2 separate regions of the Homo sapiens genome follow, and region 2 is linked to region 1. The links come from fine-mapping of genetic effects on gene expression. A gene starts in region 1. The other region holds a variant in brackets. All regions are shown on one strand. Distances are from middle to middle.

Region 1 (5,382 bases):
GTCATTGCCCCTCAAACCCCATTTGAGGAGTGGTCCATGTGTGAAGGGGTTGGGGAGGGGTTTTCCTGGCATTCAGTTTACATCTCAAGTAAGAAAGGTTATGTTGGGGAAGAGGCAGAAAGTTTTTGTAGCCTCAATCCAGAAATGCCTTCTCATATCTCAATGGATTAAAAAGCATTTCCTCAATGATATGGTTTGGTTGTCTCCCAACCCAAATCTCATCTTGAAGTGTAGCTCCCATAATTCCCACATATCATGGAAGAGGTACCTGGTAGGAGGTAATTGAATCGTGGGGGCAGGTCTTTCCCATGCTGTTCTCGTGATAGTGAATAAGTCTCACAAGATCTGATGGTTTTGTTTTGTTTCGTTTTTGTTTTTGAGATGGAATTTCACTCTTGTTGCCCAGGCTGGAGTGCAGTGGCGCGATCTCAGCTCACCACAACCTCCGCCTCCCAGGTTCAAGTGATTCTCCTGCCTCAGCCTCCCGAATAGCTGGGATTACAGGCGTCTGCCACCATGCTTGGCTAATTTTTTGTATTTTTAGTAGAGATAGGGTTTCACCATGTTGGCCAGGCTGGTCTTGAACTCCTGACCTTAGGTGATCCACCAGCCATGGCCTCCCAAAGTGCTGGGATTACGGGCATAAGGCACCACACCCAGCTGACCTGATGGTTTTATAAAGGTGTGTTCCCCTGCACATGTTCTCTCTTGCCTGCCACCATGTAAGAGGTGACTTTGCTCCTCCTTCACCTTCCTCCATGATTGTGAGGCCTCCCCCGCCATGTGGAGCCGTGAGTCAATTAAATCTCTTTCCTTTATAAATTACCCAATCTCAGGTATGTCTTTATTAGCAGCATGAGAACAGACTATTTAATACACTTAAATTCCATTTTTTTTTTTTTTTTTTTTTGAGACAAGAGTCTCAGTCAGCCACCCAGGCTGGAGTGCAGTGGCATGATCTCGGCTCACTGCAACCACCATCTCCCGGTTTCAAGCGATTCTCCCATCTCAGCCTCCCGAGTAGCTAGGATTACAGGCACCTGCCATCATGCCCGGCTAATTTTTGTATTTTAGTAGAGACAGGGTTTCACCATGTTGGCCAGGCTGGTCTTGAACTCCTGACTTCAGGTGATCCGCCCGCCTCGGCCTCCCAAAGTGCTAGGATTACAGGCGAGAGCCACCGTACCTGGCCTCAACTTACATATTTCTAAGAAAAAGAACATTTTCCTACATAACCACAAAATCATTATGACACTCAGGAGACCTATAATTGATTGATAATATTATCTAAAACACAAGTCACTTCAAAATTTTCCCAACTGACGCACCAGAGTAGCTGGGACTACAGGCACGTATCACCACCCCCAGCTAATTTTTGTATTTTTTGTAGAGACGTGTTTTCACCATGTTACCCCAGCTGGTTTCTGAACTGAGCTCAAGGGATCCACCCACTTCGGCCTCCCAGAGTTCTAGGATTACAGGTGTGTGAGCCACTGCACTCAGCCTGTAGTTGTCTTAATTTAATGTTTCTCTTTCTTTCTTTTCTTTTCTTTCTTTCTCTTTCTTTCTTTTTCTTTCCTTTTTTCTCTTTCTTTTTTTCCTTTTTTTTTTTGAGACAGAGTCTCACTTTATCACCCAGGCTGGAGTGCAGTGGCCTGTTGTCGGCTCACTGCAAACTCCGCCTCCCAGGTTCAAGTGATTCTCCTGCCTCAGCCTCCCAAGTAGCTGAGATTACAGGCACCTGCCACCACACTTGGCTAATTTTTTGTATTTTTACTAGAAACGGGGTTTCACTATGTTGGCCAGGCTGGTCTCAACTCCTGACCTCAAGTGATCCGCCTACCTGGGCCTCCCAAAGTGTTGGTATTACAGGCATGAGCCACCATGCCTGGCCAATTTAATGTTTTTCTATTTTTGTTTTAAAATATTTACCTATTCTGAAGTCCAAAGATATTTTCCTATATTATATTCTGAAGACTTTATAGTTTAGGATTTCACATTTAGGTCTTAATCCAGCTACAATTGATTTTTGTGATGAAATGAGAGATAGAGGTCCTGTTTTCTGTTTTGTTTTTTTTTTTGAGACGGAGTCTCCCTCTGTTGCCCAGGCTGAAGTGCAGTGGTGTGATCTCCGCTCACTGCAACCTCCGCCTCCCGGTTCAAGCGATTCTCCTGCTTCAGCCTCCTGAATAGCTGGGACTACAGGTGTGTGCCACCACACCCAGCTAATTTTTGTACTTTTTAGTAGAGACAGGGTTTCACCATGTTGGCCAGGATGGTCTCGATCTCTTAACCTCGTGATCCGCCCACCTCAGCCTCCCAAAGTGCTGGGATTACAGGCGTGAGCCACCGTGCCCGGCCTTCATATTGTCATAGAACCTTCACTGAATAGACCATCTTTTCTCCATGGCTGTATGATGCCACCTTTGTCATAAATCCAGTTTTCAAGTATGCGTGATAAACCGTAAAGAAAAGCAAAGAGTCAAGTATCTGCTTTTGGTAAAATAAATAAATAAATAAATATAAATAAGAAAAGCAAAGTGTTATAAAAGTCGGGCTAGTGGTTTTCTCAGGAAGTGTATCTGTGAAGAACCTGACACTATTCTTTTTTCGCTCTAATGACTTGGCTGTTCATAATTATACTTATCTTTGGTTTATATTTCAGAATAAAATTGTGTTATATTTATCAATAAAAGGTTAGTTAAAAGTAAGCAAACAGAAAAAAAAAAAGAAATATTGATGAGGGGAGCGCCAGCATCTCTCAAAAGTGAGTTCGTGGTTTTGCTCTCAATGGAAAAGCCGGCGGGAGGTGCTAAGGTGGGGATGCTGAATCCACGGATGGCCAAGCGGAGACGCGGCACTTCACCGGGGGCAGCGAGGGGCCCAGACCTTGCTCGGATTGTCCCGGTGGTAACTGGGAGACCTCGCCAGTGAGGGAAGTTACAGATCAGCTGCGCCCGGAATTAAACGACCCACAGACAACGGCGCAAACAGAGGGACTGACCTGCTTTAGTGAGCTCCCAAAACCTGCTCTCGCATAAGCACACCCTCCTCCGCTCACAGAGACGGATTTCTGCCCCAGCCGCAGCCTCGCGAGGTAGGCGGCGCCGCGAGGGCCTCTGGGAAGGCGGTCCGTGGGCAGCCGCGGGGCACTCTGGGACTGGGCTCTGGGCGGCTTTTTTGCGAGTGGCGGGCCGACTGTGTAGTCCGCTCCGGCAGCGCGCTCTGCCCGGCTTCCTCAGTCTCCTCGCCGGGAGCGTCCGGGAGCAGCTCCGAGGCCGCGGCGAAACCAGGTGGAGTCCGAGGTTCGGAGGAGTATCAGAGGTTAGGGGAAGGCCGGAGAATGGGCTGGGAGGCTGCGTTTCGGAGCTTAGGGTTCTGTCCCTGCGATCGCCGCGTCTCCCTCCCTTGGTGGGCGCGGCTCCCGGGAAGCGGCTCGTCTCGTCTCCCCTCACAGGCCGGGTTCCCGTTCTGGACCTTCGCCCTCGGAACACAGTGCTGTTGGCCGGGACTCCTTCCCGAGGTGGACGGCTCCCTGTTCTTATTCCTGGCTCTGCCAGAACTGTAGGAAGTGCTCAGTACACTTTAGGGCATGCATGGCACTCCCTGGGAGACAGTGCTTTAGGGCCAGAGGAAAGATCTTCCCTGAAGGCAAACGCCCGCGGAGCCCACAAGTCCGGGCCGCACTGAACAAGTCAGGATGTTGCCATCGGCAATTCTGCAGAAGGCAGTAACCCATCTGAGAGAAAGAGCCGCTGTCATAAGGTCTCTTGCTTGAGCTGCTGGGTTGAGAATGGAGCTGGAAGAGGGAACTGATCTCGGAGCTCCTTGGGGATCTTGGTTATGTCTGACCCTTTTACTTTCAGGGAGCAGGGATTGGATCAAGTCATTGCATCTAGAGTACGGGGGAACGAAGAAATCATGGAGAGAGTTTGCCCCAGGAGAGAGGCGAGCGTTATGTAACCTAGGATCTGGGGTGGGTAACAGTCTGTGCAGTGTCAATGTGAGAGGAGAAAACACCCAACGTGAGGGAATGGTCAGGTAAGAAAGGACCAGAAGTTCCGGTTCTACCATAGCAAGGACCTAAGTTGCTAATTTAGGTTCTTTAATGCAGACCTGGTCTTTCAGAACTTCTTTCTCTTCCCTAGCCTTGTCATTTCAGCATTCTGGCCTTCCCTATGAGGAGGAAGATCAACGAAGTCACAGGTGAATAGGAGTTTCTCTTCTAAAGTTTCATCTCCTTTGTCAGGGGGAATCGATACACTCTCTCATCTCTTCCTTGGGGAAAAAGAAGGAGATCTATCTTCATCGAGTGCTAATATGCGTACTATATGTTATCACTCAATGGTCGGATATCTCAGTAGGGTTAGTAGGTATTTTAAAAATGTGTCAGTAACTTCAGGAAAACTAGAACCTTGTCCAAGCTTACTCAAAAGGCAAGTAGCATACTACTAAATGCTACCGAACTACTCAGGATTAGGTTTAGAATCCATATCTGTAGGACTCCCAGACTCTTGGCATTATGCTGTTTCCCAGCATCCCATTCACTTACTACCTAACAATTTTGCCATACCTGTGTACTACCTGTATTATTCTATGTTTTTACTTACTTTTTTTTTTTATAAAAATCAAACTTGTCCTAAGAAACAATATCTGTGAAATTAGCCATTTGATGGCTGCTCCAATAACAGTATAGTTATTCTAAGGTGTATCTAAAAATGTTGGTCCATGTGCTATGTAAAATCGTCTCGTGTCAGACATACAAACTACAATTTGGGACACAATGCACTGCATTATGCTCTCTTCTGGATTCTTTTCTGCGTAGGAAAGTCCCAGACACATCTGAGCATCAGTCATCCATCCCTAGTGTACTGTTTTATTCTTATAGATGAATACTTTCACAGAGAATGCCCTGCTTTGTATCTTCTCCAAAAGACATTTCACTTCCCTGTTTAGAACTACCTGTTCTCAATGTTGTATGTAAAACAAGTAGGAACTCCATACATTTCAGGAGCTTCCTCTCTCTTTGGGGAGTTAATGTGTACACAGGAAATAGTCTAACTCTATGCTGTTCAGTAGAGCTTTCTGTGATCAGGGAATGTTCTGTATCTGTGCCTTATCTGTATCCACCAGCCAGATGTAGCTACTGAGCACTTAATATATGGCTAGTGCAACTGAGATGTGAATTTTATTTTATTTTAATTAAATTTAAGTAGCCACATATGGCTAGTGGCTACTAATGGCTACCATATTGGACAGCCAGGTCTAGATATTTGAAATAAAATATTTTAAGGTTATTGATTTGGACTTGGAGTTCCCCCTCACCCTCACAAATACCTCATAGCATATGTGTTATAAATGCCCTTTAGGGCTGGGTGCGGT
Region 2 (5,382 bases), 61 kb after region 1:
AGTGCTGGGATTATAGGCATGAGCCACTGCGCCCAGCCAAGATTATCTCTTTATCTTTAAAGAGGTTTAGCAAAATCCTCAGAGGCAGAAAAATGTCCTGCCATTTCACTAAATGTATCTAAGCATGAGTTTTTTATGTTTTTCCTAATCAGGACACATTATGCTTCTTTCTTGGTGCTATTTTCTATTTTATTAATTTTTAAAATCTTTACTAAATCCTTCTACTTATTTTAGGGTGTTTTTGTTTGTTTTGGGGTGTTTTTGTTTGTTTAGTTTTTAGAGAGACAGGCTCTTTCCCTGTCACCTAGGCAGGAGTGCAGTGGCATGATCATAGCTCACTGTAACCTTGAACTACTGAGCTCAAGGGATCCTCCCATCTCAGCCTACAAAGTAGCTAGGACTACAGGCGCACACCACCACTCCTGGCTAATTTTTAAATTTTTTTGTTGGAGATAGGGTCTTGCTATGTTGCCTAGGCTGGTCTTGATCTCCTGGCCTCAAGTGATCCTCACATCTTGGCCTCCTGGACCTCTGGGATTACAGATGTGAGTCACTGCACCTGGCCTTCTTCTATAAACTTCTTTTAAGTTTATAATTATTTTTCTAGTTTCTTGAGTTAGAGCTTATTTATTCTTATTTTCTAATAAATGCATTTCACTGAATTAAATTTTCCCTGAATACTTTGGCAGCATCCTGTCCAGAACACAGTTTGGCAACATATATCAAAAGCCTTTAAAATGTTTCTGCCATTTGACTTAGAAATTTTACATCTAAGAACTACATTAAGGAAATAATCAGATGAATGATGTATAAAAGGTATATATTACCATGTTATTTTTAGTATTTTTTAAAAAAGGAAAAATTTTACATTACAATAACAGAAATGTTTTTCTGTAAATTATAATATTTATATATGATTCATTATTCTCTAGCAAGAAAAATTATATTTTTGGATTATTTTTAATGACAGGTAAATGTACATAAGTTATAGCAGGATGTTAAAGATACATACATATAAGAAAAACCTGGAAAGACACTAATATATTAATAGTATCAATGAGTGGTTTTTATTTTCTATTTTATGCTTTTCAGGATTTTGCAAGCCATCTTGAATGTTTCCCAATACTATTGCTTGGCAAATAGCAAAAGTAAGCAAAAGTAAGTGTAACTGGTTTATTGTAGAGTGTCAGCTCAATGGCGCATATAAGATTATGAAATGGTTTTTTTTTCCAATCACTGCTTTCAACCATATTCTATTGAATTCCTCAAATAAATTAATGTATGAATAAATATTGAATGGGAAAGAAAAACCTAGAGGGAGGGCTTTAAAAAAGAGAGGTTTTCCCCTTTACCAGCTCCCAGAGGAAGAATACAAATGGAGTAAAATATTACAAACTGTTGAAAATATTTGCAATTCATATTACAGACAAAGGGATCCATTGCCTTATTTATCAAGAGCTCTTAGAAATCAAGAAGAAAAAGCATGGAAAATATGAAGAGACTTGTCAGAGAGAGATACAAATGATCCTTAAATTTTTGGAAAGGTGTTCTACCTTTCTCATTATATGAGAAATGAAAATCAAAACCATACTGAGACACCATTTCCTACCTATCAGGTTAGCAAAAAATTGAAAAGGTTTTTTTTTGTCTGTTTGTTTTGTTTGTTTGTTTGTTTGTTTGTTTTTTGAGATGGAGTCTCGCTGTTACCCAGGCTTGAGTGCAGTGGCACGATTTCGGCTCATTGCAACCTCGACCTCCTGGGTTCAAGTGATTCTCCTGCCTCAGCCTCCTGAGTAGCTGGGACTACAGATGCATGCCACCATACCTGGCAAATTTTTTGTATTTTTAATAAAGACAGGGTTTCACCATGTTAGTCAGGATACTGTTGATCTCCTGATCATGATCTGCCTGCCTCGGCCCCCCAAAGTGCTGGGATTACAGAAATTGAAAAGTTTTAAAACCCATTGTTAGTGAGGCTGTGGAAAAACAGGCATTCTCAGACTGCTGTGGGCAGGCACAAAATAGAATAATTCCTTTGGAGAGCAATTTGACAGCATCTACCAAAACTGTAGATACACTTGCCTTCCAAGACAAACACCCCATTTCTGGGAGTTTATCCCACAGATACACTTGCACATGTGCTTTGAAAACATTCGGCATTGTCTCCATTAGTAAAAAATGGAAAACAACACAAATGTATGTCAATAGAGGACTGGCTTAGTAAACTAGATATCCACATAGTGGAATAG[T/C]ATGCAGCTCCAATGAAGAGTAAGCAAAATTTCCTCATTGAAATGGAAATATCTCCAAGATATGTTATTAAATGAAAAAATGCAAGATAAAGAACAATGTATGTATGTATGTATATATAAATATATTAAATATGTACACAGAGTATTTTGTGTAAGGGAGAATGAGAATTATATCCATATTTGCTTATATTTGCATAGTGTCACACTGGAAGCCTAAATAGGAACTAATAAAGTCATTTAATAATCAAAACTATATTTAAAAGTTGTCTGGGGAAGCAAGGGTAAGAGTGAGGCTTTCCTGTACTTCTTTTTCACTTTTAAATATAGTTTTGATTGTTGAATAACTGGAACACATTACCCATTTTTTAAATATAAACAACAGAAATGTATTTCTCACAGTTCCAGAGGCTAGAAGGTAGGGATCAGAACCTCGCCAGAGTCAGGTTCTGCTGAGGGCCCTCTTCTGGTTACAGATTGTAGCCTCCCATAGCAGAGAAGGCTACAAGGACCCTGGTTTGTTTTGTTTGTTTGTTTGTTTGTTTGTTTGTTTTTGAGACGGAGTCTTACTCTGTCGCCCAGGCTGAAGTGCAGTGGCGTAATCTTGGCTCACTGCAACCTCCACCTCCCAGGCTCAAGCAACTGTCCGGCCTCAGCCTCCCGAGTAGGTGGGATTACAGGCGTGCGCCACCATGCCCAGCTAATTTTTGTATTCTTAGTAGAGACAAGTTTTCACCATGTTGGCCAGGCTGGTCTTGAACTCCTGACCTCAGGTGGTCTGCCCACCTTGGCCTCCCAAAGTGCTGGGATTACAGATATGAGCCACCATGGCTGGACCCTGTTTTTTAAATTGTGCTAAATGAGAGCCAGTGGGTTTTCAGTATTTATTGATATTAAAATATTGTTTTTCCATATTAACTTTTTTTTTTTTTGAGACAGAGTCTTGCTCTGTCACCGAGTGCAGTGGCACTGATCTCAGCTCACTGCAACCTCTGCCTCCCGGGTTCAAGAGATTCTCCTGCCTCAGCCTCCCGTGTAGCTGGGACTACAGGCACCTGCTACCATGCCCGGCTAATTTTTTGTATTTTTAGTAGAGATGGGGTTTCACTGTGTTAGCTAGGATGGTCTCGATCTTCTGACCTCATAATCTGCCTGCCTTGGTCTCCCAAAATGCCTTATTAACTATTTATGTGATTTTTTAAATAAAATACTTTATTTGTAAGTTTTACACCTATAGATTTGTCTGTTTTTGTTTTTTTTTTTTTCTTTTTTAAATTTGTGTGTGCTATTTTAGTCAGGATTTGGTATTATGGTTATTTGGTCTCCAAAATGGAGTATAATCCACCTAAATAAACTAGAAAAAGAAAAGCAAAAATAAAGCAAGCAGAATGAAAGAATAAAGTTTAGCCGGGTACAGTGGCTCACACCTCTAATCCCAGCACTTTGGGAGGCCGAGGTGGGCGGATCACCTGAGCTCAGGAGTTCGAGACCACCCTGGGCAACATGGTGAAACCCTGTCCAAAAATTTGGCCGGGCGTGGTGGTGCGCGCCTGTAGTCCCAGCTACTCAGGAGGCTGAGGCACAAGAATCGCTTGAGTCCCGGGAGCAGAGGTTGCAGTGAGCCAAGATCACGGCACTGCACTCCAACTTGGGCTAAAGAGTGAGACTCCGTCTCAAAAAATAAATAAATAAAAATTTTTTAAAAAGTTTAGAGCAGAAATCAATGAAATTGAAATCAGAAAAATAGAGAAAATAAATTAAACACTGATTCTTTAACAAGAAAGACAGAGAAGACACAAATTGCTGACATAAACAATGACATAAACAATGAAAGAGGGGACATCACTACTTTCCCTTTTTACAGACAGTAAAAGGATAATAGAGAATCCTAGGGACAACTCTGTGCACACATATACAACAACTTAGATAAAATGGACCAATTCCTTGAAAGACACAAATTATCAGAACTCATTCAAGGAGAAATAAAGTGAATAGTCCTGAATCTATTAAAAGATCTAATTCATAGCTTCCAAAAAGGAAAACTTGAGGTCAAATGATTTCACTGGTGAATTCTTCCAAACATTTGAAGAAGAAATAGCAGCAATTCTTCACAATCTCTTCCAGAAGATAGAGGCAACACTTTGTAGCTCATTTTATGAAACCAGCATTACACTTGTATCAAAACTAGACAAAGACACCAGGCATGGTGGCTTACACCTGTAATCCCAGCACTTTGGGAGGCTGAGGTGGGGGGGGATCACCTGAGGTCAGGAGTTCGAGACCAGCCTGGCTAACATGGTGAAACCCCGCCTCTACTGAAAATACAAAAAATTAGCCAGGTGCAGTGGCGGGTGCCTGTAATCCTAGCTACTCAAGAGGCTGAGGCAGGAGAATTGCTTGAACACAGGAGGCAGAAGTTGCGGTGAGCTGAGATCTTGCCACTGCACTCCAGCCTGGGCAACAAGAGCAAAACTCCATCTCAAAAAAAAAAAAAAAAAAGAAAAAGAAAGAAAAGAAAAAGAACAAAACTAGATAAAGACATCATGAGAAAAGAAAGCTACAGATCAATAACCTTCATGAACATAAGTGCAAAAATTCTTCAGCAAAATCTTAGCAAATCAAATTTAGCAATATATAACATGACACGTCACAACCAAATGAATTTTATCCCAGTAATACAAGGCTGGGTCAGTACTTGAAAATCACTGGGTGTGATTGCAGCACTTTGGGAGGCCAAGGCGGGTGGATTAATTGACATGAGGAGTTCAAGACCAGCCTGGCCAACGTGGTGAAACCCCGTCTCTACTAAAAATACAAAAAATTAGCCAGGCGTGGTGGTACGCACCTGTAGTCCCAGCTACTTGGGAGGCTGAAGCAGGAGAATCGCCGGTGTGGGGAAAAGAAAGAGAAATCAGATTGTTACTGTGTCTGTGTAGAAAGAAGTAGACATGGGAGACTCCATTTTGTTCTGTACTAAGAAAAATTCTTCTGCCTTGAGATGCTGTTAATCTGTAACCTTGCCCCCAACCCCGTGCTCTCTGAAACATGTGCTGTGTCCACTCAGGGTTAAATGGATTAAGGGCTGTGCAAGATGTGCTTTGTTAAACAGAAGCTTGAAGGCAACATGCTCATTAAG

Direction of the effects. Positions count from the first base shown, and alleles are read on the strand shown. Sizes are in standard deviations (SD) of each study's normalised expression.
As copies of T replace C in region 2, the expression in skeletal muscle of the gene that starts at base 3,111 in region 1 goes up (large effect, 1.0 SD a copy in FUSION).

Evidence for each region. PIP is the estimated chance that this variant, and not a neighbour inherited with it, causes the effect. A credible set is the group of variants that fine-mapping cannot tell apart.
Region 2: its variant is the best candidate, but not a certain one, in a credible set for the expression of EXO5-DT in skeletal muscle (FUSION, PIP 0.65).

Annotation. Positions count from the first base shown.
Region 1 is chr1:40,505,585-40,510,966 of GRCh38, forward strand. EXO5-DT (EXO5 divergent transcript) reads right to left here and starts at 3,111. Exons shown (of 2, transcript NR_187365.1): 1 at 3,005-3,111. EXO5 (exonuclease 5) reads left to right here and starts at 3,183. Exons shown (of 4, transcript NM_001346953.2): 1 at 3,183-3,324; 2 at 3,867-4,041; 3 at 4,149-4,206. RefSeq lists enhancers at 3,220-3,469, 3,500-3,589.
Region 2 is chr1:40,566,890-40,572,271 of GRCh38, forward strand. It overlaps LOC105378673 (a long non-coding RNA gene), which reads left to right. Exons shown (of 3, transcript XR_947235.2): 2 at 1,093-1,158; 3 at 1,427-1,677. Among named protein-coding and RNA genes, the nearest start is that of ZNF684, 38 kb to the left of the region's middle. The variant T/C (reference allele first, on the strand shown) is at 2,250.